3 separate regions of the Homo sapiens genome follow, and regions 2 and 3 are each linked to region 1. Evidence: fine-mapped expression QTL. A gene starts in region 1. Each other region holds a variant in brackets. All regions are shown on one strand. Distances are between the middles of the regions.

Region 1 (11,188 bases):
CATGCCCTCTGCAGAAATTTTAGAAAGTACAAACAAAATGAAAAATGTTCAAATCACCCACAATTCTACTAACCACTGCAACCATTTGCTTAGCTTTGTTGCACCTCTATTTTCCATGTATGACATATATATGTGTGTTTTTACAAAAACAGCCTCACATTATACATACAGCTGTCTGCTTTCATCAGGTAACCGTGTCAAATCTTCTCATGCCACTGAATATGGCCATAAAGCACCATTTTTTTGTTGCTGTTGTTGTTGTTGTTGTTGTTTTGAGATGGAATCTCGCTCTGTCACCCAGGCTGGAGTGCAATGGCGCGATCTCGGCTCATTGCAAGCTCCGCCTCCCGGGTTCAAGCAATCTCCTGCCTCAGCCTCTCGAGTAGCTGGGATTACAGGCACCCATCATCATGGCCGGCTAATTTTTGTATTTTTAGTAGAGATACGGGTTCTCCATGTTGGCCAGGCTGGTCTTGAACTCATGACCTCACCTGATCTGCCACCCCGGCCTCCCAAAGTACTGGGATTATAGGCGTGAGCCACTGCGCCCAGCCAGCACCAGTTTTTAAAAGTCAGGCTGAGTGCGGTATAGTTGCCATACTGTAAAATTCACCCTTTTCAGTTCATAATTCTATGAATTTGACAAACACAGTCTTGTAACCTGTAACTCCCACCACAGTCAAGATAGAGGACATTCCATCACCCCCAAATGCCTTCAAACTCTTTGTAGTCGACCCCAGCTCCCAGCCTTGCCCATCACTGGTCTGTTTTCTATCCTATAGTTTTGCCTTTTCCGAGTTGTCATATAAATGGGATCAGAGCATATGTGTCTCCTGCCACTTAGCATGAGGCACTGAAGACTCACCCAAGCTGCTGCATTACCGGTTCCCTTCATCTCAATGTTCCTTAGCATTCCATGGGATGCACACACCAGTGTGTGAAGCTGTTCCCTGGGTCAAGAACATCTGGAGTGTTTACAGTTTTGGGTGATTAAGAGTAAAACTTCACAGAATCATTTTTAATGGCTGCATAATATTCCACAGTATGAACACAGCAACATTTATTCCACCAGCTCTTGGTCACTGGATATTCAGGTGGTTCTCAGCTCTCACTTTTACACGCGTAAGCTTCTTGTCAGGGTCTCCATCTCCCTGAAGGGTCCCCTCCCTCTAGAGCAGTGAATCTCAACCTTGGCCACACATCAGTCACTGGGGAACTTTAAAAATGCCAATGTCGGCCGGGTTTGGTGGCTCATGCCAGTAATCCCAGCGCTTTGGGAGACTCAGGTGGGAGGACTGCTTGAGGCCAGGAGTTTGAGACTAGCCTGGACAACATAGTGAGAGCCCCCATCTCTACAAAAAATAACTTAAAAAAATTAGCCAGGCGTGGGGGCACATGCCTGTAGTCCCAGCCACTCAGGAATCTGAGGTAGAAGTACCACTTGAGCACAAGAGCCAAGAGTGATTGTGCCACTGCACTCCAGCCTCGGTGACAGAGTGAGACCTTGTCTCTAAAAAATTAATAATAATAAATAAAATGCCAATGCCCAAGCCATATCCAGACCAATTAAACTGGATTATTTGGGGAGGGGCCTGGGCCTAAGTATTATTTGGAGCTCTTAGGTGTACCCTGCTCCACTGTACTCTGGAGAGGGGATGGTCTGGACCTGTGGGGGGTGGCCACTGCTGCCCCTGTGGCAGTCCCTCTCCCTCCCCAGACCCACTCCTCACTGCCTTCCCACAGTGACCACCACAGACAAGTACAGGGAAACCAGGCCCATTGAAGATGGAAACTCAAAGACAATTTCCAATGTGCAGGAGATAATCTAACCATCTCCTTTCAGTGGGATCTTTTCCATAGCTCAAGGGCCACCCTCTGGGAAGGGCAACTCCTTCCAAGTGCCTCTTGGACACACCCAAGTCCTAACCTGCCCTCGCGACTATGCCTCTTGTTTAAGCTGCAAAAGCTACCTCCAGTCCTGGGGATATTCTTGGCCCTAGTATGGCTCCCCACTGCGCCCCACCCCCATCTTCCAGTGGGACACCCTCCCTCACCCCTCCTCCAGCAGGTATACCTCCCACATCCTCAAGCAGGGACCCCCTCCCCAACCATCCTCCAGCAGGGACACCCCCTCACCATGTTCTCCAGTGGGGGCACTGTTGCAGCAGAGAAAGTTTTGTAATTGCAGGGCCAGACAAGCAAGGAGGATGAAAGATAATTCTCAAAACCACCTCCCCCAGAATTCAGAGGCTAGTGTTTTTAAGGGTGCTTCAGCAAGCAGGGGACTAGGGAGCTGAGACAACTGATTGGCAGTGGATGAAATCACAGAGGTATCAAAACTATCTTCAAGCAGCTGAGTCAGTTTCTTGGTGTGGGTCACAGGTCCAGGTAGTGTCTCTTGGTCTGCTAAAATTCTAAATCTAGAAAATATCTCAAAGTTCTTTAGGTTTCATAATAGTGATTTTTTTTTTTTTTTTTTGAGACGGAGTCTTGCTCTGTCTCCCAGGCTGGAGTGCAGTGGCATGATCTCAGCTCACTGCAAACTCCACCTCCCAGCTTCAAGCAATTCTCCTGCCTCAGCCTCCTGAGTAGCTGGGATTACAGGCATGTGTCACCACTCCCAGCTAATTTTTTTGTATTTTTAGGGAGATAGAGTTTCACCATGTTGGCCAGGCTGGTCTCGAACTCCTGACCTCCAGTGATCCACCCGCCTTGGCCTCCGAAAGTGCTGGAATTACAGGTGTGAGCCACTGTGCCCGGCCTCTATATGAGCAGCTGGAGAAGTTAGAAATCTTGAGATTTCCGGCTATGTGACTCCAGGGCAGTAAGCATTATAGAAAAGCAAGCCAAGTGAGAAACGGCAGGTCGCTGTTTATGCCCATTCTTTAGCAAAGTTCAGGCCCCACCACAATTCTAACCTTGTCTTATGAATGTGGTTTCAATCTCCAAACAAGGAGGGGGTCAGTTTTTCTTGCCTTTAACTATGAACTAAATTCCTCTCATAGTTATGTTGGCCTCTGCACTACAAGAAGAAGAAGAAAAAAAAAGAAATAAGAAAACCAATTTAGTCTGTGAGGTTAGATGCAAGAGGGAGGCAGTCATGTTAGATTTCTCTCATGACTTACAATTCTGCAAAGGTGGTTTCACCTCCACGGCAGGCCACCTCTCCCTGGGTATAGGGCACATCTTCGTCCTGCAGAGCAGGCAAGTCCCTCTCTCTCCCCACCTCCTCACCCCTTCTTGCCCCCACTGGCCAATCTTCATGAATCCTTCAGCCCCATGTTGTCCTAGCAGACACTTTGCAGCAACCACTCAGAGGGCCTGGCTGATTTCTAAGCTAGGCAGTTTCTTCCACTGTCATTTGGATGAGATTCCTTGCACAAACATTTTTGCACAGTTGCCCAGTGTTTTAAGTATTCAGGTCTCATAGTCTTAAAAACTGCCTCTGCCTTCCCAGGAGAGAACAAGGGCTCCAAGGGGAGCCCAGGTGCTCTGGCCAGACAGAGGACATTAAAAGGAACAGAAATGGTTTTAGACAGCTAGAGGGATCTGCTCAGGGGATATTTGGGCAGAGCCTCCTCCTTGAGAAGGGTAGGAGCCAGATCCACAGACGAAGACCCTTAGAGCCTGCCCATCCCTGCTGGCACAAGGGGAGGATGGGGAGAGAGGGACCATACGCAGGCCTCCTGGCTTCTGTATGTGGGTCCTGAGGCCCAGGAAGCTCTACAGCCCTGAAGAGGTAGATGAATTAGGAGGCTGGGAGATGGTGTAGGAGGTCAAGAGGATGCCTGGGCTGAGCCATCTCCCCCACTCCCCTCAGCCCTGTGCTCTGAGTGCAGAGATGGGGAAGAGCCAGCCCACTAAAGATGTCAGAGAGGAGCCAAAGAAAAAGGATAGGTGCTCAAGGAGTCTGGGGCTCAAGACTGAGGACGATGGGGCAGTGATGAGGAGAGGCATGTGGAAGGGGGTTGCATCTGATCTGGTGTCCCATCAGTTAGGCTGAGCAGTGCCACACTACCGTAACAGAGGTTACAAATGGAGTATATCTAAATAAGATAGACAGAAGACTTGATATTATCAAGACATCAGATTTCCCCAGCTTGATCTATAGATTCAATGCAATCCCAATCTTGGGAAAGGAATTGCTGGATCAATGTGTATTATTTTGTTTTCATTTTGTTGGATGTGGTTGCCACATTGGCTTCCACAGTCCTTCCTATGGATTGCCAATTACCTCGCACCTTCAACATGTGTGGTCAATTTTTTTGAATGTTTGATAAACCCACAACTGAAGATATTCTCATTTAGGTATTCTGTAACGACTGGACAGGTTGGGCACTCTGGTCATAAATTTATTGACCAGGATTTCTTCTAAGAATCATCTACGTGAGTTTTTTTGCTAATTTTTCTATTAAATTATTGTCTTTTTATCTATGGACAATTTGATAAGATTATCATGAGATAATCTTAATTCCAAAATATCTCACACTTTATCCCAGTTTATCTTCTGACTCTAATTTTTAATCAGATTTAAAATTTGTCTGTAGTCCAGTTTATCATTCTTTTCCTTTAGTGTTTCCAAGTTTATTGTGATATTTAGATCATAAAAACATTCACCGACTTTTTTCCAGTACGTTGTTGGTTTCCTTTTTAGATGGAAATGTTTGACCCATCTGGAATTTATTTTGGTGTTAAGGAATGAGGAAGGGCACCAACTTCTATTTTTCCAAATGGCCTGCCAGTTGTCCTAATGCCATTCGACTGAAAAATCTTCCCGCGTGTTTGAAGCGACCGCCCCACCAGCGCATTGGAAACCCGCGTGTCGGTCCTGCGCCCGCCGGCTTCCGTGTGACAGTCCCGAGCGCAGAGGGATCGGGCACAGCCCGCACGCGTCCGCCCCGAGCCGCCGGCTCAACCCTAGACCCAGCCCCGGCGCCAAGGACACAGCCCACCCCGCTCCGCCCGGGCCTAGGTCCCAGTTCACCCTCCCTAGCCGGGGACGCCCCCTTGACCCCGCCTCCTCCACCCCCTCCAACACCCTCCCCGCCCCGCTCCAGCCCAGCCTCTCCTCCCGGAGGCCAATGGGGCCGAACAGCGCTTTCCGAGACATTAATTTAAATAAAAGGCGGGTCCTCTGCCGTTATTTGCATGGAGGCGGGTCTTCCGGAGCGGCCGGGACACCCAATCCTGTAGGAGCCCGGACCCTCCCCAGCGCTCCGACTGGCCCAAGTAGCGAGCCCCACGGAGAGGCCTCATTTGCATAGGGCGGGGCCACGTCCTCTTCCAGCCGGCGGCCGCCCGCCCGCCCACCCGCTTCCGTCAGCCTCACTGGGGCTTCCTTCCGTCTCGCTCGGAGTTTCCCTCTGCGTTCGCTCCGCGCTGCTGGAGGCTGTCGTCCCAATGCTCCCCAAACGGCGGCGAGCGCGGGTCGGGTCCCCTAGCGGCGATGCCGCTTCCTCCACGCCGCCCTCGACGCGCTTCCCGGGAGTCGCCATCTACCTGGTCGAGCCTCGCATGGGTCGCAGCCGCCGGGCCTTCCTCACAGGCCTGGCGCGCTCCAAAGGCTTCCGCGTCCTTGACGCCTGCAGGTGCGGGGCGGCGCGGCGCGGCGAGGGCTTCCATGGCACTTCTGGTTTTGGATTCTAAGTTTGCAGTGGCACTTCGTGGTCTTGTGACCTTTCCCTGAGCCTCCATCTCCTCTTCTGTAAAGGGTGCTATTAATTAGGGCGAGGCGTGTTTTAAAGGATCACTGCGAGAATCAAAACCAGAGGTCAGGGGTAATTAATAAGCAGTAGGCCGGGCGCGGTGGCTCACGCCTGTAATCCCAGCACTTTGGGAGGCCGAGGCGGGCAGATCACGAGGTCAGGAGATCGAGACCATCCTGGCTAACACGGTGAAACCCCGTCTCTACTAAAAATACAAAAAATTAACCGGAGGTGGTGGCGGGCACCTGTAGTCCCAGCTACTCGGGAGGCTGAGGCAGGAGAATGGCATGAACCTGGGAGGCGGAGCTTGCAGTGAGCCGAGATCGCGCCACTGCACTCCAGCCTGGGCGACAGAGTGAGACTCTGTCTCAAAAAAAAAAAAAAAAAAAGTCGTATTTGCTAACAGCCCTTCTGCCTGGGCTATGTCCCACCTGTGAGCGAGACTGACTTCTCAAGAGGCCCGGAGCCCGCAGGCTCCTCTGTCCTCAGGCCTGAGTAAATAACACGACTGAGAAGCTCTTGTAGGAAGGGAACCAAGAGAAGAAAAAATGGCGGCTACAGAGACAACACCCAGAGTAAGGGAGCTGGGGGTGCCCCCTAGTTTGGAGGTTGAGAGAGCAAACGAACCTGGGGCTAGTATTCCCCCACAGTTGTGTTTGATTTTTTAACATTACCAGGGATCAGTAGTGCGCCAGACCCACTCAGGAGAGGATGATAGCAGCTTAGAGTGTACAAGGCACTATCTTTGTACAACAACCCCACAGGGTGGATATGTTATCTCTGCTTTACAGAAGAGGAAATCAAAGTATAGACACGTGGCTTGCCCAAGAGCCAAACAAGTATGTGGCAGGCAGAGCTGGGGTTCAGACCCAAACAGGCTCCTCCATCTCTGCTGAAACCCTTGCTCTTAGATGAAGACCACCTGGTCCTGACCCTAAGGAATTCCTTTCTTTGAGGTGAAGAGGGAGGGAGAGAGCACAAGACTGGGCTGTGCTTGTGAACATAGCCAGGGCAGAGAACTACGGTTCTGAGGGCTGAGTGGTGGAGGTGTTCATCTACCAGGAGGAGGGGCTGGGAAGGCTTTCTGGAGGAGGTGACGTTTGCAGGATGAATGGTCACTTACCATGCAGAAGGGACGGCAAGAGTGAAGGCTTGGAGCCAACCAGGACGGGCTCTGGGCCTCACCCTCCTCCTTCTCTCCCAACTCCCTCCACCAGCTCCGAAGCGACACATGTTGTGATGGAAGAGACCTCAGCAGAGGAGGCCGTCAGCTGGCAGGAGCGCAGGATGGCAGCTGCTCCCCCGGGTTGCACCCCCCCAGCTCTGCTGGACATAAGCTGGTTAACAGAGAGCCTGGGAGCTGGGCAGCCTGTACCTGTGGAGTGCCGGCACCGCCTGGAGGTGAGCTGGGTGGAAGACTAAAGTGGGGGCTACAGTGAAAGCCCCAGTGTAGGCCATTGCTCAGCTGGGACAGGTGACATGGCAGCAATGCCTCAATGTCCTTCAGAGGAGGTGGGCAGTGAAGACTCTACCCAGATCACCAGGGGCCCCCTATAAACCAGTAGAGGAACCACAGAAGGGGCTGAGGGGGCCAGGCCATCTCAGCTTCTGTTCTCACCACTGATGCAAATTCTGGGGTCTGCTTATTTTTACCTTCTTCAGGCCTTTCTTCCTCACCAAGTAGATGACACAGCAACTCCGAGCGGGATGACCCATGGGTTAGCAGGAGCCTGTCCTCTGGATGCTATAAGGCTCCCGGCCTCTGACAGGTGTGGGCTTGGGGCCAGGTTGCCTGCCTTCAAATCCTGGCCCAGCCTGTGAGCCATGGTTGTGGGGCAAGCCCCTAGCCTCCAAGGCCTCAGCATCCCCAGCCCGCTTGGTTGTGAGGATTGGGGTGATGGAGTACATGCATCATGTGCAGCAGCAGGAGAAGTGCCCACAGGGCTGGCAGATGTGATTGCTGCTACCCTGGCATGAGGAGCCCCATGCACAGCCTGTTCTGCAGGGCGGTGCCTCCCTCAGCCTCATGCCGCTGGTGTTTTGTTGCCCACCTCTGTCCCATGAGCTCCAGAGGGCCCGAGTTGGACACCCCAGGAGAAACAAAGCCTGAGTACGGCCTGGCTCTCCTGCCAGCCCTGCAGCCTCACAGTGACCTGTTTATTGCCCATCCCCAGGTGGCTGGGCCAAGGAAGGGGCCTCTGAGCCCAGCATGGATGCCTGCCTATGCCTGCCAGCGCCCTACGCCCCTCACACACCACAACACTGGCCTCTCCGTAAGCCGCTTCTATGAGCCTTGGCCAGCCCTGGGGGTTGGGGACAAGGGTACAGATGGGTGGTAGGTGGGGGATTGGAGCTGCCCACCCTGCCCCTTACCTAGGGCCCCTCCCTGCAGGAGGCTCTGGAGATACTGGCCGAGGCAGCAGGCTTTGAAGGCAGTGAGGGCCGCCTCCTCACCTTCTGCAGAGCAGCCTCGGTGCTCAAGGCCCTTCCCAGCCCTGTCACAACCCTGAGCCAGCTGCAGGGGCTTCCCCACTTTGGAGAACACTCCTCTAGGGTTGTCCAGGTAGGTGCTTACCATCCTAGCAGGGTGAGTGGGTGGGTGGGGAGGCCTTGGGGCCTGGTGAGACAGCAGAGGGTGCTGTGGGGGTGGGTGAGGACAGACAGTCGTGGGTGCTGACACTGCTCCAAGGCCTCAACAAGCCACCCTCTGCGCTCAGATTCCTCCTGTGCACACTAGCCATTTACTCCTGGGTGGCCTAGAGGACCCAGTGAATGGCGCTGTGAGGGGCCTGGCAGGGCTAGGGGTGACACTGTTGTCATTGTCATTAGTCCCAAACTGCCCTCCACAGTGGAATGAAAGAGAGCACCCTGAGTGTGAGCATCTCTTTTCAGTGCCCCAGTGTGTTTAGTTGTCCTTTAGTGCACTTTCATTGCAAGAATACACAGTGACAGAAGATGCTTTTAAATGAAGTAGTATTGAGTTCACATGTTCTGAAAAGCAATTGTTTATGTATCTTGGGACTTATTTGACTGAGAGATGATCCACGTTACCTGGCATCTCAGCTGCTGTAACTCCAGGCCCGAAGGAGCTTTGAGGCTGGAGCCCTGACCTCCCAGCTGTGTGGCAGCAACTTTGGTCACCTCCCTGGGCACAGTCTCCATTTCCAGGTCCTACTGGACCCTGACCTCACAAAGTTGTCTCTGCCGGGTGTTGGAGGGGACTGCCTCAGTCCTTGGGCCCCCAGCCCTGACCCTAACTCCCCGCCCTTCTCTTTCTTCCCACGCCCTCAGGCTTAGAGTTCTGCTTTGTTCCCTCCCCCAGGAGCTGCTGGAGCATGGAGTGTGTGAGGAGGTGGAGAGAGTTCGGCGCTCAGAGAGGTACCAGACCATGAAGGTGCGCAGGGCAGGGCTCGGACCTACCCCAGGAATGTCCTGCCCTGGGAATGACAACACAGTCCACACCATGCACGGGGAGGCAAACAGGGGCAGCTGACCCAGCCCAGGGGTCAGAGAAGGTCTTGCCGAGGAAGTGGCAGCTAAGCTGATACCTGATATGCACAAGGCAGCCAAGTGGAGACAGGCAAGGAAGAAGCTTGTTTTGAGGACAGAATTTTCTAGATCACTCAGCACCATCTGGCTTTTGGGGCTTTTTGTTTTATTTTGTTTTTGAGACAGGGTCTCGCTCTGTCGCCCAGGCTGGAGTACAGTGGTGCGATCACAGCTCACGGCAGCCTTGACTTCCTGGGCTCAAACCATCCTCCCACCTCAGTCTCTGGAGTAGCTGGGACTACAGGCATGTGCCACCACACCAGGTTAATTTTTAAATCTTTCTCGTAAAGATGGGGTCTTGGTAATGTTGCCTAAGCTGGTCTCAAACCCCTATGCTCAAATGATTCTCCTGCCTTGGTCCCCAAAATGCTGGGATTATAGGCATGAGCCACTTCGCTCTGCCTTGACTGTTTTTGATGGAATATTCTCAAGTAGATTACATGCTGTGGCATCTTAAACAGAGCACTGTGAACCAAATGTACCCTTGGGTGCTGCCACTGAGCATGCTGGGCTTGCCCTTGCCCGCCTTCTGCAGGACCTTATGTGTTATTTTCTCAGTGTTGTCAGCCTGCCTGTTTCCATGGCCACCTTCCCTCTGTTTCTGCTCACTCCTGGTCTGATAGGGAAATGCCGTCTGAGTTCTTTTGGATGCCTCGGGTGTGCCTGCTTTGACACCCTTCTGCCAACTGGCTTTGTGGCTGGAGGTGTCACAGCGGTGGCCACATGGATAACTGTCAGTGAAGTGTGGCTTCCTGGGTGGATGGGGCCTTGGGAGGTCACACAGAATGTTGTCAGGATTGACAGGGAGGGCTTCGAAGAGGAGAGACTTGAGCAGTGTGTGCAGGGCAAATGGGCTCAAATATGCAGGGAAGGGGGCAAGGGGCACTGGCAGGGACAGGGGACCAGATGAGTGGGGCCACCGTGGTGAGTGTGGGAGTGAGGGGCCTGAAGATGATGAAATCCCCTTGAAGTGGTGTGAGGTTAGTGAGTACTTTCACTGTCAGCCTCAGCCCCAGCCCTGAAGGCATCTAGGCTGGCAGAAAATTACATTAGTAATGAGAAGTTTATTAACAATATAATTGGGTTAATCTCATCATTTTTAGTCAGGATTCTTTGGGTTGCAAGTGACAGTGACCCACCCCACACCGTTGGTTCACAAAATAAAGGAAAGGAGGGCCAGCAGAGCCCAGGATGGGGAGGGCTGTGGCCGGTCTGCAGGACAACTGGGCTCAGCGACCTGGGTATCACCAGGCCACTCCTCCTCCCCTCTGCCCCTCTGCACGGTGGCTTCGCCCTCTCTTGCGACGCACCAGCTTCTTCCATCGGTTGGAAATGTGGCCACAAAAGGTGCTCGGCTGCCACAGGCTACAGCTTCTGCCACTGTGTGGGCCTGCCCTCAGTCTCAGATCCAGAATTCCTAGGGAGGGACTCTAGTGGCTGACCTGAAGCAGGTGACTTGCTTGGGCTGGGGCCCACCCTCTGTGGGAAGATATGTGAGCACCCCAGCCAGCCCTGCCAACTCTGCTCCTAAATCCACCCTTTTGATTGTTAACTCCTCATTGTTTTTTGCTGTTGGCTAAGGAGGAGAACCACAGAAATTTGTTCCACCTTCTGTTAGGTGGGAGAGGCATGGTTTTTCCAGTGACTTAGGAGCCCCTCGTGCTGATGTGTTAGGGTGACTGTTTTGATTATGTTGGAATCACAGGCTAGAGCTGTGTAAGTCCCTTTCATAGAGGAGAGGAGAGGGGTGTGCGTGGGTTTGTTCCCAGAGACGGCAGGCTGGGTAGTCAGGCTCCAGGTTTGAATCCTTGCCCTGTGGTCTACGGCAGGTTGCGAGTGGGGACGGCGCCTGCCTGGTGCATGGTGCTCCATGGGCCACACCGTCCCGGAGCGGGTGATCATCCGAGTCTAGCCATGAGAGCTCTGCCCAACCG
Region 2 (9,828 bases), 120 kb after region 1:
GAGGGCCACTCTCTTCCTGTTTTAAGATGGGGAATCTGGCTGGGTACAGCGGCCCACACTTATAATCCCAGCACCTTAGGAGGCTGAGGTGGGAGGATGGCTTGAGGTCAGGAGTTTGAGACCAGCCTGAGCAACATAGCAAGACTCCATCTTTTTTTTTTTTTTGAGATGGGGTCTTGCTCTGTCACCCAGTCTGGAGTGCAATGGCGCAATCTTGTAGCTTCTCCATCTGGGCCTCAGACCCTCCTCCCAGCAGCCCTAGGGGAGGGCCACTCTCTTCCCGTTTTAAGATGGGGAATCTGGCTGGGTACAGCGGCCCACGCTCATAATCCCAGCACCTTGGGAGGCTGAGGTGGGAGGATTGCTTGAGGTCAGGAGTTTGAGACCAGCCTGAGCAACATAGCAAGACTCCATCTTTTTTTTTTTTTTTTTTTTTTTTTTTTTGAGATGGGGTCTTGCTCTGTCACCCAGTCTGGAGTGCAATGGTGCGATCTGAGTTCAAGTAATTCTCCTGCCTCAGCCTCCTGAGGAGCTGGGATTACAGGCATGCGCCACCACACCTGGCTCACAGGGTGAGACCCTGTCTCTAAAAACAACAACGACAAAAATGACACAATAGTGAGGGCACAGGCCCCAGGTCACTGACTTAGATTCTAATCCCAGCTCTTCCAACTGCTGTTTCTTCACCTGCTGAGCCTCAGTTTCCCCATCTGTCATTGGGGATACCAGCCCCTGCTTCACGGGTGCCTAGGGGATTCCCAGGAGATTATGGAGGTGCCTCAAGGTGCCTGGTAGGGCTGAGGGTGGAGGGTATGGGGGTTCAGGGCCGTGTCCCTGGCTGAGCTGACCCCACAGGTTTCAGCGGGTGGGCCCACCTGACGGAGGTTGACCCTGATGAGGAGGTGCAGGGCGAGATCCACCTGCGGCTGGAAGTGCGCCCAGGGGCCCGGGCCTGCCAGCTACGCTGCTCTGTGCTGGAGGCCAGGTGAGACTCAGGGGCCTGGGGGCGGGCAGTGGGTCCCCTGCAACTAGAGAAACCCAATGAGGAAGCTGAGCCCCCCCTCGCCCCACCTCTACCTCCTGGTCCCAGAGCTGGCCACCTCCCATCAAAGCCTGCTCTCAAGAGAGGGTCTCGCCAGGCACAGTGTCTCACACCTGTAATCCCAGCACTTTAGGAGGCCGAGGCAGGTGGTTCACCTGAGGCCAGGAGTTCAAGACCAGCCTGACCACCATGGTGAGACCCTGTCTCTACTAAAAATACAACAATTAGCCGGGCATGGTGGCAGGCGCCTGTAATCTCAGCTACTCAGGAGGCTGAGGCAGGAGTCTTGAACCCAGGAGGCAGAGGTTGCAGTGAGCCGAGATGGCGCCACTGCACTCCAGCCTGGGTGACAAGCGAGACTGCATCTCAAAAAAAAAAAAAAAAAAGAAAGAAAAAAGAGAGGGTCTGGGGAGGTTTTCTGGACTTGAAGATGCTTCTTGGGTGATTTCCACTCAAGGGGATATGTCCCTTAAGGGACAGTCTAATGTTCTCATGGAGGAACTGGAGCCATCACAGAGGAGTGGAGTAGGGGGTACGGGTGAGGAGACCCCGAACTCTGATCACACAGCCTCAGTCCCCCAGTGCTAAGGCCGGCTTCCTTATGTTTAACGCCAGTGTGAACTTGGCCTGGTGGGAGTGTGTGTAAGTGGGTCCCTCGTGGGGCTGGGGGGGTGAAAAGAGTTGCTGAAAATCTCCCGATGGGCAAATTGAGGGTTCCCCCAAGGAGGGACAGTGGTTTGGATGGTTCCATGGGCCTGAGTCACCTGTGACAGGGCCACCCCCCAACCCCCAGGGTATTTTTAGCTGCAGGCTGCACTCCCGTCTGGGCCTGGGTCTGAGTCACACTCTGTCCGTGAGAAGCGTCTTCCCTTCCAGCTCCAAACCCACCTCCCCAAGTTGCTCCCTGCCTGTGAGGCAGGAGGGTGGCCCCCAGCCAGGCAGCCCTATGGAGCCAGTGTTCCCCCCACCCTTGAGGGGTCAGCCTGTCTAAGAGGAAGACTTCCCTTGGGCAGAGGGGTGTGGGTCGGATGATGCCCATGTTGCTCACTCTGGCTTCCCGGGAGTTATTTTCTGTCCTGGGAAAATAGAAATGGATGGAAAATGTCTGGGCTTGGGCCGAGCCTCAGCCACGCCCCCACACTCGCTCACTCTCTGGCCCTGCCATTCATTCCCCCCCGCCCCACCCCAACTCACCTGCTTCTTCCATCCTTATCCTTTCTGGGCACCAGGCTGTCTGGGGGACAGGCATGCACACGTGTGCACCCGCTCACACACGTGGCCGGGCTCTGGGACCTCGGGGCCACTTCTCCCAGGCACCCATCGTCACCCACGGAGATGGGAGGCATGGAAGCATGTCTCCCTGGCCCTCCCCTCTCTCCAGGAATCTCCCCTCTCCCATCCTCTGGGGCCACAGTGGTTGGCCTTCTAGTGAGTCCTAGCAGGGGAGAGGAATGTCCAGGCCTCTCTCAGAGTGAGGGGACTTGTCCCCCGTTGTCCTCGGCAATGAGACTCCTGCTGCAATTCCAAGTCAGCCTAAGAAGGTCCATTTGCTGCAGAGGAAGAAAGAACATTTCCTCCTTATTTTTTCTGGGGAGATTCTCAATATTTCAGTAAAACCTTGGGGTTTTTTTGTTTTTTGTTTTTGAGACAATCTCGCTCCATCATCCAGGCTGGAGTGCAGTGGCCCGATCTCAGCTCACTGCAACCTCCACCTTCTGGGTTCAAGCAATTCTCCTGCCTCAGCCTCCCTAGTAGCTGGGATTACAGGTGTGCACCACCACGCCTGGCTAATTTTTTGTAGTTTTAGTAGAGACGAGACTTCACTATGTTGGCTAGGCTGGTCTCAAACTCCTGACCTCAGGTGATCTGCCTGCCTCGGCCTCCCAAAGTACTGGGATTACAGGCGTGAGCCACTGCACCCGGGCTGTTTTTTTTTTTGGTGTTTTTTTTTTTTTTGAGGCAGTCTGGCTCTGTCGCCCAGGCTGGAGTGCAGTGGCGTTTTCTTGGCTCACTGCAACCTCTGCCTCCCCAGGTTCAAGCAATTCTCCTGCCTCAGCCTCCTTCCCAAAGTGCTGGGATTATAGGAATGAGCCGCTGCACCCAGCCTCAATGTTGGGGGGTTTTATTAGACAGTCTTGAGGGGGAAGAAAGGCAGGTATGAGAGGCTTAAAATATCGAAGATGAGTGGGCTTTGGTGTTCTTCCACAAAGAGTTCTAAGTAGGGGATACTGGCAGGGTGCAGCGGCTCACTCCAGTAATCCCAGTGCTTTGGGAAGCAGAGGTGGGAGGATCTCTTGAGGCCCGGATTTCGAGACCAGCCTGGGCAACAGCAAGATCCAGTCTCTACAAAAAAATTTAAAAATTAGCCAGGTGTGGTGGGGCACACCTATAGTGCCAACTACTTGGGAGGCTGACGTGGGAGGATTGCTTGAGCCCAGGAGGTGGAGGCTGCAGTGAGCTATGATTGCATCACTGTACTCCAGCCTGAGCAACAGAGCAAGACCCTGTTTAAAAAAAAAAAGAAAAGAATAAAAGGGCCAGGCGCGGTGGCTCACGCCTGTAATCCCAGCACTTTGGGAGGCCAAGGCAGGCGGATCACCTGAGGTCAGGAGTTTGAGGGCAGCCTGGCCAACCTGGTGAAACCCTGTCTCTACTAAAAATACGAAAATTAGCTGGGCGTAGCGGCAGGCCCCTGAAATCCCAGCTACTTGGGAGGCTGAGGCAGGAGAATCACTTGAACCCAGAAGGCGGAGGTTGCAGTGAGCTGAGATCGTGCCACTGCACTCCAGCCTGGGCGACAGAGCAAGACTGTTTCAAAAACAAAACAAAACAAACAAAACAAAAACATATGTGTGCAGGTATCTTTTTTGTATAATGACTTCTCCTCTGGGTAGATATCCAGTAGTGGGATTGCTGAATCAAATGGTAGTTCTACTTTTAGTTAGTTAAGGAATCTCCGCTGTTTTCCATAGTGGTTGTACTAGTTCACATTCCCACCAGCAGTGTAGAGGTATTCCCTGTTCACCACATCCTCATAGTCAGTACTGTTCTGCTGTGTGG[C/G]CTCGGATACATCTTTTCCCCACCCTGGGCCTCAGTTCTCCCCATCTGAGAAATGGGTGGGAGCTTGGACAGGACATTTTAACCTCTGCTGTGGCAGAACCTCCAAGGCGAGGAGGCTGTGGGGAACCCAGGGGAGGTGTCTAGGGCAGCTCTGCCTTTTGCCCAGCCTGGGGAGTCCAGTGGCATCAGCCTAACCCCCTCCCACCCTCCTCTGGGCAGATCATGAAGAAGTCATGCTACCCACGCTGGAATGAGACGTTTGAATTTGAGCTGCAGGAGGGGGCCGTGGAGGCGCTGTGCGTGGAGGCCTGGGACTGGGACCTTGTCAGCCGAAACGACTTCCTGGGCAAAGTGAGCACCACCGCCCCGCCCCCCCTCCTCCCCCGGCAGGCTGCACCTGCTGTCCCCCAGCACCTGGCTCCATTGCAGCCATCCCATCCTCAGGGACCTCCTTCTGGCTTCCCCAAAGAGGGACACTCAGGAAGCCTGGGACTACCCCCCCACCTCCACCGTCTGCCAGAACCAGCAACTTCCCCCCACCACCACTGGCACTCAGGGACCCTTGGAAGAGGCCCCTCCCCACTAAGAACAGTAGTTGGCAAGGAGGAGACCTAAGTCTCCCAGCTCCAGGAAAACTGCCACTATGTCCCCAGGTGGTGATCGATGTCCAGAGACTGCGGGTGGCGCAGCAGGAGGAGGGCTGGTTCCGGCTGCAGCCCGACCAGTCCAAGAGCCGGCAGCATGACGAGTAAGTGCATGGAGCTGGGCAGCCGGCCTCAAGGGGTGGGGTGGGGGCTGACATTTGGGAATTGGCTACAGGCAGGCAGGGCAGGGGGGCTGCTCAGGGGTGAGAGGTCAGGAGACACAGCTCCAGGGTCCCCTCAGCCCCTGCCCACCTAGCCAGCATCCTTCTCATCCCGGCTGGGCTCCACCTCCCCTTTATTTATTATTTATTTATTTATTTATTTATTTATTTATTTATTTATTTATTTATTTTGAGATGGAGTCTCACTCTGTCCCCAGGCTGGAGTGCAATGGCGTGATCTCGACTCACTGCAGGCTCTGCCTCCCAGGTTCACGCCATTCTCCTGCCTCAGCCTCCCAAGTAGCTGGGACTACAGGCACCCGCCACTGCGCCTGGCTAATGTTTTGCATTTTTAGTAGAGACAGGGTTTCACCATGTTAGCCAGGATGGTCTCGATCTCCTGACCTGGTGATCCACCTGCCTCGGCCTCCCCAAGTACTGGGATTACAGGCATGAGCCACCGCGCCCGGCCCCTCCCCTTTATTTTTCCCCACAGTTCTGCATTCAGCTCAGCTCTGTCTTCTGTCTTTTTTTTTTTTTTTTTTTTTTTTTTGAGATGGAGTCTTGCTCTGTCACCCAGGCTGGAGTGCAGCGGCACAATCTTGGCTCACTGCAACCTCCACCTCCTGGGTTCCAGTGATCCTCCTGCCTCAACCTCCTGATTAGTTGGGATTACAACTGTGTGCCACCATGCTCGGCTAATTTTTGTATTTTTAGTAGAGACAGGGTTTCACCATGTTGGCCAAGTTGGTCTCGAACACCTGACCTCAAGTGATCCACCCGCCTCAGCCTGCCAAAGTGCTAGGATTACAGGCATGGGCCACCAAACCCGGCCAGGTCTGTCTTCTTAGCTCACAGGTTGTACAGGTCTCCTGCTTTCTGCCTCTGGAAGTTTCTGAAACAAGTACTCAGACATTTTCCCTTTGAAAATTTCCCTGCAGACCTCAGACCAGGGTTCAAGTCTCCAAGGTCAGTGTCCCTGAGCCATAGCTCCAACTCCCTATGCCAGATTCTCCAGGAATAGGGTTGTGAGATAAGATAGGACACCGTTGGCCAGGAGCGGTGGCTCATGCCTGTAATCCCAGCTCTTTGGGAGGCCAAGGTGGGAGGATCACTTGGGGCAAGGAGTTTGAGACCAGCCTGGGCAAGAAAGTGAGACTCTGTCTCTACAAAGAAATAAAAATTAGGCCAGGCTCGGTGGCTCACGCCTGTAATCCCAGCACTTTGGGAGGTCGAGGTGGGCGGATCACCTGAGGTCAGGAGTTTGAGACCAGCCTGGCCAGATGGCGGGCGCCTGTAATCCCAGCTACTCGGGAGGCTGAGGCAGGCAGAATTGCTTGAACCCCGGAGGCAGAGGTTGTAGTGAGCCAAGATTGCGCCATTGCACTCTAGCCTGGGTGACAAAGCTAGACTCTGTCTCAAAAAAAAAAAAAAAGAACACCCAGTTAAAACTTAATTTCAGATAAACAGTGAATAATTTTTTTTTTTTTTTTTTTTTGAGCAGCATCTCACTCTGTCACCTAGGCTGGATGGAGTGCAGTGGCATGGTCTTGGCTCACTGCAACCTCTGCCTCCCAGGTTCAAGCAATTCTCATGCCTCAGCCTCCCGAGTAGCTGGGATTACAGGCATGCACCTGTACCACCAGTGCAGTGGTGATCATAGCTCACTGTAGACTCCACCTCCTGGGTGCAAGCAATCCTCCCACCTCAACGTTCCGGGTAGCTAGGACCACCTCACCTGGCTAATTTTTTGTAGTTTTAGTAGAGATGGGGTTTCACCGTGATGGCCGGGCTTGATGTTGAACTCCTGACCTGTGCCCGGCTGTGAATACTTTTTTAGTATAAGAATAACCGCTGGGCGTGGTGACTCACACCTGTAATCCCAACACTTTGGGAGTTTGAGGCGGGTGGATCACTTGAGGTCAAGAGTTCGAGACCAGCCTGGCCAACATGGTGAAACACCGTCTCTACTAAAAGTACAAAAAATGGTGGTGGGCACCTGTAATCCAAGCTACTTGGGAGGCTGAAGCAGGATAATTGCTTGAACCCAGGAGATGGAGGTTGCAGTGAGCCGAGATCCCACCACTGCACTCCAGCCTCTGTGACAAGAGCGAAACTCCGTCTCAAGAAAACAGCTGGGTGCGGTGGCTCATGCCTGTAATCTCAGCACTTTGGGTGGCCGAGGCGGGTGGATCATGAGATCAGGAGTTCAAGACCAGCCTGGCCAACATGGTGAGGCTCTACTAAAAATACAAAAATTACCCGGATGTGGTGGCGGGCACCTCTAATCTCAGCTACTTGGGAGGCTGAGGATGGAGAATTGCTTGAATCTGGGAGGTGGAGGCTGCAGTGAGCCGAGATCGTGCCACTGCACTCCAGCCTGGGTGACAGAGCAGGACTCCATCTCAGCAAAAAAAATAAATAAATAAAGAAGAAGAATGACCATGCACTATTTGAGACATACCTATACTAAAAATATTCAAATTTAGGCCGGGTATGGTGGCGCATGCCTATAATCTCAGCACTTTGGGAGGCCAAGGCAGGAGGATCACTTGAGCCCAGGAGTTCAAGACCAGCCTGGGCAACATAGCAAGACCCCATCTCTAAAAAAAAAAAATAAGTAAATAAAATATTCACATTTAACTGGGTGTCTTGGGTCGTTTTGCTAAATCTGGCAGCCTGTCTAGGAAGCCCTCTGGCTTGTTTGCTGTGGCCCACAGCCCTCAATGGTTCAGCTTTGTGTCTCTGTGGAAGGCCCCAGACCCCCACTCCCCCAGTTCCCATCCTTAACAGGGTAGGAGCAGGTGGACGGCTGTGTGTCCAGCACAAGGTGTTTCCATAGAACCAGCCAAGGCCCATCTTGCCATCTTATTTTTTATTTATTTATTTTTTTTGAGACAGAGTCAGGCTGGAGTGCAGTGGTGCAATCCTGGCTCACTGCAACCTCTGCTTCCTGGGTTGAAGCGCTTCTCCTGCCTCAGTCTCCCGAGTAGCTGCGATTACAGGCACCTGCCACAATGCCTGGCTAATTTATATATATATATTTTAATAGAGATGGGGTTTTGCCGTGTCAGCCAGGCTGGTCTTGAACTCATGACCTCAAGTGATCTGCCTGCCTTGGCCTCCCAAAGTTCTGGGATTACAGGCATGAGCCACTGCGCCAGGCCCAGGGGCCCATCTTAACACTGCTCTGTGCATGAGGCTCGTGCTGAGCACGGGCAGTGGGAGCCTTAGAGGCTCCCACTTGGTCCACACCCTCCTCTGTTCTGAACTTCCCTATCAGAACAGGGAAGCTGGGAAGCTCAATCTAATGTGGCAAGTTGCTGAACTGGCTCGGGTCTCAGTTTCCCTATTAGGTTGTTATGAGGGTTGGGGATTTGCTTCTGCTGTAAAGTGTACCCATGATGGTGCCATTATCTGGGAGTTGATAGATTCAAGGCTGGCAGCTCCACATACCCAAGCTTGGAGGTGGCAGGGAGCCACACCTCGAAGACAGATAGAGGTGCCTTGAGTGCAGAGACAGGAAGGGCTTTCCAAAAACAGAAAATAAATAGCCCGGGCAGAGCCTGGGAGGCAGAGCTGTGCAGGGCACCCGGATGGAGGGCATGAGCAGAGAGATGGGAGGCTGGCCCCAAGGGAAAAAACTGGAGGCCATGGGAGCGGTGTGGTCCAGGGTGGCCTGAGTCCCTGGTGGAGAGGTCACAGGCTGCCCATTCCAGGGGCAACCTGGGCTCCTTGCAGCTGGAGGTGCGGCTGCGGGACGAGACGGTGCTGCCCTCCAGCTACTACCAGCCACTGGTGCACCTGCTGTGCCACGAGGTCAAGCTGGGCATGCAGGTGAGGGGACCTGGGCAGGGTGGGAGGGTCCAGTGGCAGTAGGCCTGTGCGCCTGTCCTTCCAAACCCATTCTGCAGAGCAGAAACCTGAGGTCTGGGGATGTGAGGAGCTGGCCAGTGTCCAGGGCCCCATCCCCAGCCACCCCTTGGGAAAATGTCCTCTTTCCCTGGGATGCTCTGAGGTCCTCAGAGGGAAAGGTTCGGGATCCCCCGTGCCTCTCCCTGCAGGGCCCAGGGCAGCTGATCCCACTCATCGAGGAGACAACCAGCACCGAGTGTCGCCAGGACGTGGCCACGAACCTGCTCAAGCTCTTCCTGGGGCAGGGGCTGGCCAAGGACTTCCTGGACCTGCTCTTCCAGCTGGAGCTGAGTCGCACCAGTGAGGCCTGGGAAGGAGCTGGGCCCAGAACGCTGGGAGGTGTTTGGGGGTGGGTGGGCTCCTCCTGTAGGAGGCAGATGGGGTCAGACAGGAGGGAGGCAAGGAACAGAGCCAAGGGCAGAGGTGGGACAGTGGGCTGGGAGGTGGCGAGGAGGCCCTTTATTGAGGGGCCAGCTTAGATCCCCCAGCCCCAAGGTCCTCTGTCCTCCCCCTCCCCCAAAAGCTTTGTCCCAGCCCCCTACCCACTGGGACCTCTGTTTGTAGTCAGAGTTTGTTTGGCTACTTCCTTTGCAACCCCCACCCCCAACCTTTTTCTGCATGGTAGATGAAAAATTGAAAGTACCTCTGATTGGTCCCTTTCCACAACCAATGAGGCTGGTCATGGGCCAAGTCTTCATTTGCATAGGAGTATAACTTTGTAACTTCACTTCAGCCTTTTCCCAATCAATCAGAGATTTGCATAGGGTGTAACTTTGAAACTTGCTTCAGCCTCTGATAGGTCCCCTCCCTCAACCAATCAGACTGATTGTGGGCACTACTTCATTTACAAGGGTGTACATCAAGTAACCAATGGGAAACCTCTAGAGGATATTTAACCCCCAAAAAATTCGGTAACCAGGCTCTTGAACCACTTGCTCAAGCCACTCCCACCCTGTGAAGTGTACCTTCATTTTCAATAAATCTCTGCTTTTGTTGCCTCATTCTT
Region 3 (11,188 bases), 28 kb after region 1:
GGTTCCTCATACACAGCCTCCTCTTCTGCCTGCACCAGACATGGAGGAGTGCTGGGCGCCGGCTCCTCAGCAGGGAGATCTGCACCAGGGAACACAGCAGGTTCTCACTCCCACACATCCCCCTTCTCCACTGCTGTCCCCCAGGGTCCCCATGGGGTGACAAGCGCCTTGCCTGCCCTGGGCCTTGAGATGGCAGCAGCTGGCTCTCTGCCAAAGTGGGTCTCTGGTTGGGTGAGCTGCTTCTGCAGGAAGGGGCTCCTCAGCTTGCCTGCAAACCCGGGTAAATATATACATCACTTCAGAAACACCACCACACACCCACGCACCCCACAGCACCCTCCACCCTGGTGTGCTCGAGGCAGTCTCATGGGGCTTGCTCTTGCTAGTGCAGGAACAGAGGCCCCAGGGCCATGTGCTATGTGGTGACGTGGTAGACAGCGCAGCCCAATATCTTTTGGAGGCCAAACTGGTGACCAGTGTGGTCACTGATGAGGTCAATGGCCCCAGGTGTCCCTTCTCCTCACTCACTCACCCGTCACCGATATATCTGTCACTAGCCTTGGGGGAGCCCACATAGGACCCCAGGCTCCCCCTCAGCCTGCTGCTGCCTCATGGCCAGGCCCAAAGGGAGAGCTCACCAGGCTGAGGACTGGAGATGGAGGTGGTGGACATGGCCCTCTCCTTCTGCTTGAAAATCTCCCTCGGGTGCACGGCAGACTCCTGGAGGGAAGCACATGTTGACCCCTGCAGTGGGCAAAACCTTCACCACCTCTCCCCAGATCACAGCCCCTCCAGCTGTCGGCCCAGTAGCCCCTCAAAGGTGAGTGTGGGGCCAGGAGGCAAAACATGTTCTCAGGAGAGAAGTCATTTAAAAATAAAAAGTAACGTTAAAAAAGGAAGTAAAACACAGAAGCCAAGGGGCTCCCAGGGCCTCCCCCAGGACCAGGTGTGGTCCAAGCCCGACGCTTCCGCCTTTGGCTTTCCTCTCTACTGCCACCTCTTGAGGTGCCCAGATTCCAACCTGCCCCAGCTGACTGCAGGGCAGCCTCTGCCCAGGTCTGGGCTGGGCCCTCAATCCGAGATCAGGGACTTCTGCGTGTGGCCAGGACAGGTCCAAACAAGTAGAGCACCCCCATCTTACCTGCTCATTTCGGTTCCTTGAAACCACTTCTTGCTGCTGCTCCCACGTCCTGCTGGGAAGGGCCGGGTGGGGCACAGCTGAGGCACAGTCACAGCTTCTCATGCCACACCCCTTAGTCCTCCTCGCCTCCATGGGATGGAGCAGGTGCCCAGCAATGCCTCAGGGTGGGTCCCCCAGGCCAGCCTCCACCTCTGGCTCACCTCTGGGGGCTGGCCTCGCCACCCTGCTCCTGATAGCGCTGCTCCCGGCGTGCAGCCTCACGCAGCTCACGCTCCCGGCGCTCCTGCTCCAGCTGCCGCTGTGCCTCCTCGGCCCGCCGCTTTTCCTCCAGCCGACGGTTCTCCTCCTCCTTCTGCAGGGAGAGCCACTGCCCGCTCAGCCCTATGCTGCCACTTCAGCCTAATCCCCTGCCCAGGACTGAGTTTTAGGCACATGGCCAAAGACGGGCACCAGAGCCAGTCGATCATTAGCCTTGTGGCTTAACTTACCCGAGCCTCAGTGTGACCATCTGTAATGGGCACCAAGGAGAGTGGATGCTGCATGAGCTCACTTGTGAGGAAAGATGAGCCACAGCAAGCAGAACACTCCCACGTGCCCAGCATGCCCCGGGGCAGCACTCACCTCTGCTTTGGCCCAGAAGCTGTCTTTACCAACCCTTTTAATCTCAGACACGGCATTGGTCTTCTGGTACACAGAGCCCTGTAGGGGACAGCACTCATTAGAGACCTGGACCCAGGTGGAAGGCCAGGCCCACAGGCACCAAAGGAGAGAATACGCTAAACTTGCGACAGCACAGGTGAGTGCTGCTAGGACTGGACCCAGCAGAGGCAGCAGAGCACTGCCCAGTGACCCTCAAGGAGACACACACCAAGATGACCTGAAAGAAGCCCAGGACACTGCCCCAAGGGGGATGCTCAATCCCAGACAACACTAGAGGGGTCTCTGGTGGTCTCTCGCCCTCATGGATGGGGGCCAGGGCAAGAAAGGCCCCCATACCCCACCTGCAGACTCCTAGACATTGGGCAGTTCTGAGGCAGGCCTCTGACCAGGGGCACTCAGACAGCTGACTACCACAAGAGCATCCAAGGAATCACGTCCAACCACACGCATGCGGACGCAGCTCCCAGCCATCAGCTCCACACAGCACTGGGGCCACAGGCCCACAGGTATCTCCCGTGACTCCAAGGGGCCTGCTCTGGTTTCAGGCTCCGCCTTGATGCCTCCTTTAGTTCCTCCACGGTGGCTACCTCCAGGGGCAGCCCAAGATGTTCCAGTGCCATGACCTTGAGGGCAGCCAGACTATCATAGCCATGCATGCTGCAGAGCCTCCACTCTGACCACACAGGCTGGGCTCCAGAGGAAGGCTCCAGAACAGCTAGTCCAACCCCTAGGCAAGGTCAGAGGGCTATTCCTGCTCATCTGGTCAGTGGGCAATCACCACAGCTCAGGGGTTACCATCTGCAGAAACTAAGCAGGCATGGGCCCAGCCAGCCCGGGTGCTGGGAAGTGCATATTCCTGGCCCCCTGCCTCAGGCCCTGAGCAACAAAAGGGCTGGCGATGGGCAAGCAGCACTCACCACTGGGGCCTGGGGTCCCACGTCCTGGAAGCGGCCACTCTCCTTGTGAAAGCTGTAGTTGGCACCTGAAGCCTTGGCCACCTTCTCCATGATGCACTCAGGCTCCACATCCTCCTCGGCCCGTGCGTTGATGGTCACATGGGCCCCCTGCAGCAGGAGCAGCACTTGAAAGAAGGGCTTTGCAAGCCCAGGAGATGGGCCAAACTCCTGTCAGTCCATACAGCACGGGCCACTACTATACCACACAGGACTGGAATCAGGAAACTAGAAGGCACCTGTCTGGCTGCTGAAAACTGAGGCACGAGTTCCCCTCAAGGGCTCAAACAAACCAACTTGGAGCAAACCCCTCATTCTTGTCCCAGTTCACGTGAGACCCTTGACCTCCACTGTGCTATCCAGTGGTTCCTTCTGTAGCTGTTCCCTGCTGTGTATCAATAGACAGCCCAGGCATAATTTGCATCAAAGGCCTTCCTTCTAATCAATGAAAACTAATTTTAAATGCCATCTGGAAGCCACAAAAGACCCTGAATAGCTAAAGCAATCTGAAGCAAAAAGTACAAAGCTGGAGGCTTCATGCTACCTGATTTCAAATTAAACTACAAAACTACAGTAAGCAAAACAGCATGGTACAGGCATAAACACAGACACAACAATGGAAACTAACAGAGCACTCACACACACAGCCAACTCATTTTTAACAAAGGTGACAGGAACATACACTGGGGAAAGGACGGTCTCCTTCATAAACAGGGCTAGGAAAATTGGATATCCATATGCAGAAGAATGAAACTAAATCTTCATCTTTTACCATATTAAAAAAAAACTCAAAATGGGTTAAAAAGACTTAAATGTAAGACCTGAAACTATGAAACTACTCAAAGAAAACACTGGGTAGATGCCCCTGGACATTGATCTGGGCAAAGATTTTTTTTGGGTTAAGACCTCAAAAGCCCAGGCAACAAAAGCAAAAATCAACCAATTGGACTACATCAAGCTAAAAGGCTTCTGCACAGCAAATGAAACAATCAACAAAGTAAACAGACAACCTACAGAATGGGAGAAAATATCTTCAAACTATCCATCTGACAAGGAATTAGTGACCAGAATATATAAGGAACTCAAACAACTCAGTAGCAAAAAAATAATAATCTGATTTTAAAATGGGCAAAAGACCTTAACAGATATTTCTCGAAAGATGATATACGCATGGCTAACTACATACAAAAAAATGCTCAACATCACTAACCATCATCAGGGAAATGCAAACCAAAACCATAACGGGCTATCATCTCACCACAGTTAGAATGGCTATTATAAAAAACATAAAAAATAAATGCTAGCAAGGATGTGGAGAAAGGGAAATTCTTATACACTGTTGGTAGGAATGTAAAGTAGTACAGCCATTATAAAAACAGTATGGTTTTTTGGGTTTTTTTCTGAGACAGAGTCTTACTCTGTTGCCCAGGCTGGAGTGCAGTGGACAATCTCGGCTCACTGCAACCTCCACCTCCCAGGTTCAAGAGATTCTCTGCCTCAGCTTCCTGAGTAGCTGGGATTACAGGTGCCCGCCACCACACCTGGCTAATTGTTGTATTTTTTTAGTAGAGACGGGGTTTCACCATGTTGGCCAGGCTGGTCTTGAACTCCTGACCTCAGGTAATCTGTTCACCTTGGCCTCCCAAACTGCTGGGATTACAGGCGTGAGCCATCGCGCCTAGACAACAGTATGGTTTTTAAAACAGTATTTTAGTCCTACTAAAAGCAGAACTACCATATGATCTAGCAATCCAGCTGCTGGGGATATATCCAACTCTGAAGTTCAGCGCTATTAACAATAGCCAAGATACGGAATCAACCAAAACGTCCATCAATGGATGAAAGGGTAAAGAAAATTTAGTATATAAACATGAGGGAATATTATTCAGCCATAAAACAGAATGGCATCCTGTCATTTGCAGCAACATGGATGGAACTGGAGGTCATGATGTTAAGGGAAATAAGCCAGGCACAGAAGACAAGTATTGCATGTTCTCACTCATGTGGGAGCTAAAAAAGTGGGTATCATGGAGGGAGAGAGTAGAATGCTGGTTACCAGGGGTTGGGAAGGGCATGGGGGAGAGAAAATGAAGAGAAGTTGCTTAACAGGTACAAAAGTACAGTTAAATAGAAGGAATAAATTCTAGTATTCAATAGTACAGAAGGGAAATTATAGTTAACAATAATTTTGTGTATTTCAAATTAGCTAGAAGAGAAAAATTGTAATGTTCCCAACACAAAGAAAAGATAAATGTTTGAGGTGATGAACATGCTAATTACCCTGATTCATCGTATACATTGTATACAGGTATCAAAATATGACATGTATGCAAAAAATATGTACAACTATTATATATCAATTTATAAAAACTCTGGGCCAGGTGCGGTGGCTCTCGCCTGTAATCCCAGCACTTTGGGAAGCTGAAGAGGGCAGATCACTTGAGCTCAGGGATTCCAGACCAGCCTGGCCAACACAGGGAAACACCATCTCTACTAAAAATAGAAAACTTAGCCGGGCATGGTGGCAGGCACCTGTAATCCCAACTACTCAGGAGGCTGAGGCAGGAAAATCACTTGAACCTGGGAGGCAGAGGTTGCAGTGAGCCGAGATCGTGCCACTGCGTTCCAGCCTGGGTGACAGAGTGAGACTGTCTCAAAACAAACAAACAAACAAAAAACAAAACAATTAAAAAAAACTCTGATAAAAGAATGCCATGCATGTTTTCTACAAAAAGTAAGCCAATGATTTCTTCATAAGAAGCCAGACCCATGACGTCATTCACTGTTGCTATACAGGTTGAGCATCCCTTACCTAAAATTCCAAAATCTGAACTGCTCCAATGAACATTTCCTTTAAGCATTATGTCAGCACTCAAAAAATCTCAGATTCTGGGCTGGGCGTGGTGGTTCACGCCTGTAATCCTAGCACTTTGGGAGGCCAAGGCGGGC[A/G]AATCACGAGGTCAGGAGATCGAGACCATCCTGGCTAACACAGTGAAACCCCGTCTCTACTAAAAATACAAAAAATTAGCTGGGCGTGGTGGCGGGTGCCTGCAGTCCCAGCTAATCGGGAGGCTGAGGCAGAAGAATGGTGTGAACCCGGGAGGCGGAGCTTGCAGTGAGCCAAGATCACGCCACTGCACTCCAGCCTGGGCAACGGAGCGAGACTCAGTCTCAAAAAAAAAAAAAAAAAATTCAGATTCTGGAGAATTTCGGATTTTGGATGCTGAACTGAAAACATTCCCAAATCTGAAAAAATCCAAAACATTTCTGGTCCTAAGCATTTCAGATAAAGGATACTCAAACCTGTATATCGATAAGCTGGGAATTCTCTTATCAGCTCCTAGATGGAAACTGAGGTATAGCTGAAGAAATGTTGGCAGAACGAGAAATCAAAATTCTGAGTCTCCTTTGCCAGAGAAATGCAAAAAGTTACCTGACAAGTGACCAACAAATGCTTTTGTTACAAATAGTTTTTAAAATTTAAAAAGGTTCTATTATAGGACTGACATAACTCCATGTAGAGGGGGCTGGAAAGGAATGCATCAAAAGGGCACATGCGTGCTAAGATGGTGGGCACTCTCCCCTTCCTCCAAATCCTGACGGTATTACTAAACTGTTTAGAGGGATCATAAAACAAAACAGAACCAGGGCCCACCCTTCTCACGGCACCAGCTCCAGCATAGTCCTTTATCCTGCCCCACTGAGGCAGGCCTGTAGGTGGCCCTGGCAACATCCTGACCTCCCATGCACTCACTGACCGAGAGTGAAGCAGCCTCTGGTCATGCCCTCAAAGGCAGGCAGAGAGCATTAGCTATGAGCACACTCCCAACTCCAGTTCTGATTCCCACTTGCTCGCACCCAGGAACCTGCGAGACCTCAAGCCTGTGAGGCCTGTTCCCAGTGAAGCGGGCCTCACCTGGCCTTACCTTCAGGAAGCTGGCCATGGTGCTGACGTGGCTGGCACAGGCTCCCTTCCGCACATCGTTCACGCCCTCGCCTGTCTGCAACACAAGGATGCCCAGGTTGACCCAGGCCTCCCCCAAAGCCACTTCCCTTCCCTGGGGACCCAACATCTACCCTGTGTCCCAGAAAAGAGAAAACTGCAACCCCCAAAGCAGAACCTATTCTTCTGACTGCATCACATGGGTGAGGTAAGTTCCCATGCCTCCAAGGGGCTCATGGATTCTCCCTGGGCAGGATGGCTACCGGCTTTCGCTGTGGGGGCATTTCATGAATTTTCTTTTTTTTTTTTTTTTTGGAGATGGAGTCTTGCTCTGTGGCCCAGGCTGGAGTACAGTGGCGCAATCTTGGCTCACTGCAACTTCTGCCTCCTGGGTTCAAGCAATTCTCTTGCCTCAGCCTCCTGAGTAGCTGGGACTACAGGTGCACGCTGCCATGCCCAGCTAATTTTTTGTATTTTAGTAGAGATGGGGTTTCACCATGTTGCCCAGGCTGGTCTCAAACTCCTGAGCTCAGGCAGTCCACCCACCTCGGCCTCCCAAAGTTCTAGGATGACAGGTGTGAGCCACCCCACCCAGCCTTCAAGAGTTTTCTTGATCCCCACCAAGGGATCAAGGAGGCCCTGTCCCTGTACTCCCAGGCTCCTAAACACTCCCTCAGGCTCTCTACTCCATCAGAACAACCACCCTCAAGAGCACGGAGCAAGGACTCCCTGTGACTGCTTTTAATCCATTTTGCAGGAAGAACTCTAGGCTTGGAAGGTGAATTCTGCATAGCAAAGCCACAGTTATTCTTTGGGCCACAATGAATCTGTCAACTATTCTGCTCATTCACCAGCTCAGAGCTGTTCTATTGATCTACTAAGTCATGCCAGTAAAACACTTTGTTCCTGAAGTCAAGTCAAAACAGGAAAGAAGACAATGGGGTTTCCTGGGTCACACCTAGATGAAACAGGCTCCACATACCCAGTTGATGAGGACAAATTTGGGCAGTCCAGAGTTGGGGTCCTTCACTCTGCAGAAGGCGTACATCACCTTCCCGCTGTTGAGCTCCTCCACCATCTCCTCCAGGCCACCCTCTGCAGCAGAGTCACAGTGAAGGTCAGGGGTGGCCCTGACATTCCCTGCTGGCCCTGGTCCCACCATGAAGGGAGGCCGAGCTGCTTCTAAACCAGGGCTTCTCACCTCTACCTGTATCAGAATCTTTCTAGGGGTATGTTTAAAATCAGAGTCCTGGGCACCACCCTCACTAAACTGATTGATGAGAGCTGGGTGGGACCTAGAAGTCTGCGATTCTGACAAGTACCTCAGGTAATTTTTTTTACCCACACTCGTTTAAAAACCACTTCTCTAAACCCAGAGGTAATTCTGGAAATAAAAACAGGGTCATTTCCACGGCAAACCAGCCACCAGACTTCCAAATGGAGGATGGCTACGTCAAAATTTTATTGTTGCCACAACGTTGCAAAAGGGCCCGGAATAGCAGGGCCTGTAGAGTCACCACTGCCTGCACCTGTGTCTGCTCAAGTTCCAGGGCCACCCAGACGGCCAGACCAGATTGAACATCCTGCAGTGGCGTAACTGGCTCAGTCCTCAGACTCCAGAAGAGAGGGTGATGGGGACAGGGGGAGCACAGGAGTGGGCAGCTCTAAACAATTCTCCCTGACACTGAGGCTTAGCCCTCACAAACTTTTCCAGGTTATAAGGAGGAAGAGCTGATCAGGTATTTCATCTACAGGGCTCCGTATGAGTGGAGGCAGTCATGAGCCCCACTCTGGGGACAGCAAATTGTTGCATTTGTGGCAGAGCCCTGTCCTGTGCCACTGGGGATGACAGGAAACTCTCAAGTTGTTGATCTCTGCAACTCCCAGTCACCTGCCACACCACATGTCTACTGTTCAATGGCAATCCTTCTAGAAAGGGGACACCTCCCAGAAAGATTGTGAAAGGAAGGGGCTTTCTACCAACAACAGACATCAAACCGTGGAGAACCACTCCGAGTGTTCATTGAACAATGAAGCCATGTCCAGCTCAGGACAGAGGGAGGGGTCAGGCAACTTCTGGAGGAGGAGCAGTCACGGGTGTCAGCTGAGGGGCCCACAGGTCACACTCTGACGAAGCCTACCCTGACAACCTCTGCTCTGTGCTGGCCAAGAGCCTGTCCTTCCTGTAGAGACCTCCAGAGCCTCCCCCGTGACTATCTGCAGTGATACTGCCTCTCCCAGTGAGGATGGGGCCCCTGCAAGCACTCGGCACAAGACCAGGGCAGGACAAAGGGAGAAGAAGATATGTCTGTGGACTTTCTTTCCACCAGCACCAGTTCTGGGACTGGTGAGCTTCCCACCGCAGCTCCCAACGCAGGCTGCCCACAAGCTGGAGAGGCCTGTTTCCCTCTCAGCTCTCCCCAAGTAGACAAAGAGAAAGCACTCCCCTGCACCCAGAGGGAAGGAGAACCAAGGAGGAATGTTTTCACTTACACATATCTGAAACCTAAGGCCTGCCAGAAGTGGCCAGTGAGCACTGGAAGCCCCATGTGGCTCAGTGGACCAAGACAGCTGAGTGCGCTGACCCCTCGTCGTCACCCTCCTACCTCCTGGTGTCCCTGAGTCCATTTGGAGTCATACTCACCCCCTGTGCCAGCCACGCGGATGTCATTGCTGTTGCCTTCATAGGTAAAGAGAGCCCTGAAACGAAACACAAGTGAGCTCTGTAGCCAGCACCTTGGGTTCCATCTCTCCTCACCGTATCCACCATGACTTTCCACTACATCCCAAAGAGCTTGGGCTGACAGTAACACTGTGGGTGGGCACAGGCCCGTTCTCACTTTGCTCTGACCCACTAGGCAGGTTCTCAGTAGGCAACTGTGCAGCCTTCTCAGCTCTGCAGCTGGGAGGACACTGGCCTGACTTACCATGGGGTGGGGGTTGTGAGGGACAAAGCCATGGAGATGGGAGCACACATCTACTATGAGGAAAACATGAGCTGTGGAGTTTCCCAATGACTGCTATACATTCATGTGTCAAATACTCACCTGGCCACTAGGTATATGGATTTGAAGAGACAAAACATATCTACATATTCCTGAACCCAGAGCACCCAAAAGGAGAAGCAAGTCGGAGAAATACACACACTGGGCCCCTTGGAAGGCTGCCCACCACTCCTGTGCACGTCTGCCCTGGCTCCAGTGAAGCCTGGTGGGTAGGGCAGCAGGTCCTTCCAGGCTTGAGACTCTTTGGTAAACACAGACTACCACAGGTTGTGTTTATCAGAAACCACAAAGGAATGACACGACATGAAATCACACAGTTAAAGCCATGAACCTGCCAAGCCCCTCACGGACAGGTACCCATGAGCAAGTTTTCTATCTAGCAGAGCCTTATCTCTCCATGGGTGACATGGGGCCATGGCTTTCTTTTCCTGAAAGATTAATTATTCATAAGAACTTTGGGCTGGGCGCAGTGGCTCACGCCTGTAATCCCAGCACTCTGGGAGGCCGAGGCGGGCAGATGTGGATCACGAGGTCAGGAGATCGAGACCATTCTGGCTAACACGGTGAAATCCCATCTCTACTAAAAATACAAAAAATCAGCTGGGCGTGGCAGCAGGCACCTGTAGTCCCAGCTACTCAGGAGGTTGAGGCAGGAGAATGGCATGAACCCGGGAGGCGGGGCTTGCAGTGAGCCAAGATCGCGCCACTGCACTCCAGCCTGGGCAACAGAGTGAGACTCCATCTCAAAAAAAAGAACAGAACTCTGGGCCAGGTGGGTGGCTCGTGTCTGTAATCCCAGGACTTTGGGAGGCTGAGGCAGGAGGGTCGCTTGAGCCCAGGAGTTTGAGACCAGCCTGGGCAACATGGTGGGACCCTGTCTCTACCAAAAATACAAAAATCAGCCAGGCGTGGTGGCATATGCCCGTAGTCCCAACTACTCGGGAGGCTGAGGTGGGAGGATTGCTTAAGCCTGGGAGGTCGAGGCTACAGTGAGCCATGATGATGCCATTGTACTCCAGCCCAAACAACAGAGTGAAACCCCAACTCTTAAAAACAAAAACAAAAACAAAACTCTGGTAAAGATTCATTCTGGCTTGCTAATAGCATGAACCTTGCAGCAACTGAACATCCCCAGCAGGGCTGCTGGACATGGGCTGGAGGCACTGACCCACTGGACTATAAGTCAAAGGCAAAACCCAGTCCAGTGTGTGTCATCTCCCCAGGCTCTAAAGCACAGGCCTGCTGAGGCAGGCCAGACAGAAGCTCCAGGGATAAACAGTCGGACAGGAACCAAATCAGCTTCAACTTGGCTTCCCCAGGGCTTTGCCAGTGCCACTGGGCAGAGATACTTATGCCTCAGAAAAATGGAAGAAATTAGACCCAGGCCCAGTGGATCTGGTTGGTAGGGAGGAGACAGGCCTCCGGGAAAAGGCACTCCTTACCAGGAGGGGAGACAGAATACAGGAGAGAAACACTGAATGAGAAA

The links. PIP is the estimated chance that this variant, and not a neighbour inherited with it, causes the effect.
Region 2: its variant is fine-mapped to the expression of POLM in thyroid (GTEx, PIP 0.99).
Region 3: its variant is fine-mapped to the expression of POLM in whole blood (TOPMed, PIP above 0.99).

What each region holds. Positions count from the first base shown.
Region 1 is chr7:44,076,651-44,087,838 of GRCh38, reverse strand. POLM (DNA polymerase mu) reads left to right here and starts at 5,309. Exons shown (of 11, transcript NM_013284.4): 1 at 5,309-5,588; 2 at 6,923-7,106; 3 at 7,880-7,978; 4 at 8,098-8,268; 5 at 9,028-9,099. The coding sequence starts at 5,401. RefSeq lists a silencer at 4,744-5,323 and enhancers at 5,035-5,535, 7,375-8,282.
Region 2 is chr7:43,960,889-43,970,716 of GRCh38, reverse strand. It overlaps the pseudogene POLR2J4. Among named protein-coding and RNA genes, the nearest start is that of SPDYE1, 32 kb to the left of the region's middle. The variant C/G (reference allele first, on the strand shown) is at 4,103.
Region 3 is chr7:44,048,434-44,059,621 of GRCh38, reverse strand. It overlaps DBNL (drebrin like), which reads right to left. Exons shown (of 13, transcript NM_001014436.3): 2 at 9,342-9,397; 3 at 7,680-7,792; 4 at 6,681-6,755; 5 at 2,719-2,865; 6 at 1,763-1,840; 7 at 1,342-1,493; 8 at 1,142-1,190; 9 at 639-720; 10 at 173-268; 11 at 1-79. It overlaps MIR6837 (microRNA 6837), which reads right to left and starts at 7,856; the gene lies at 7,793-7,856. RefSeq lists enhancers at 1-148, 92-251. The variant A/G (reference allele first, on the strand shown) is at 5,704.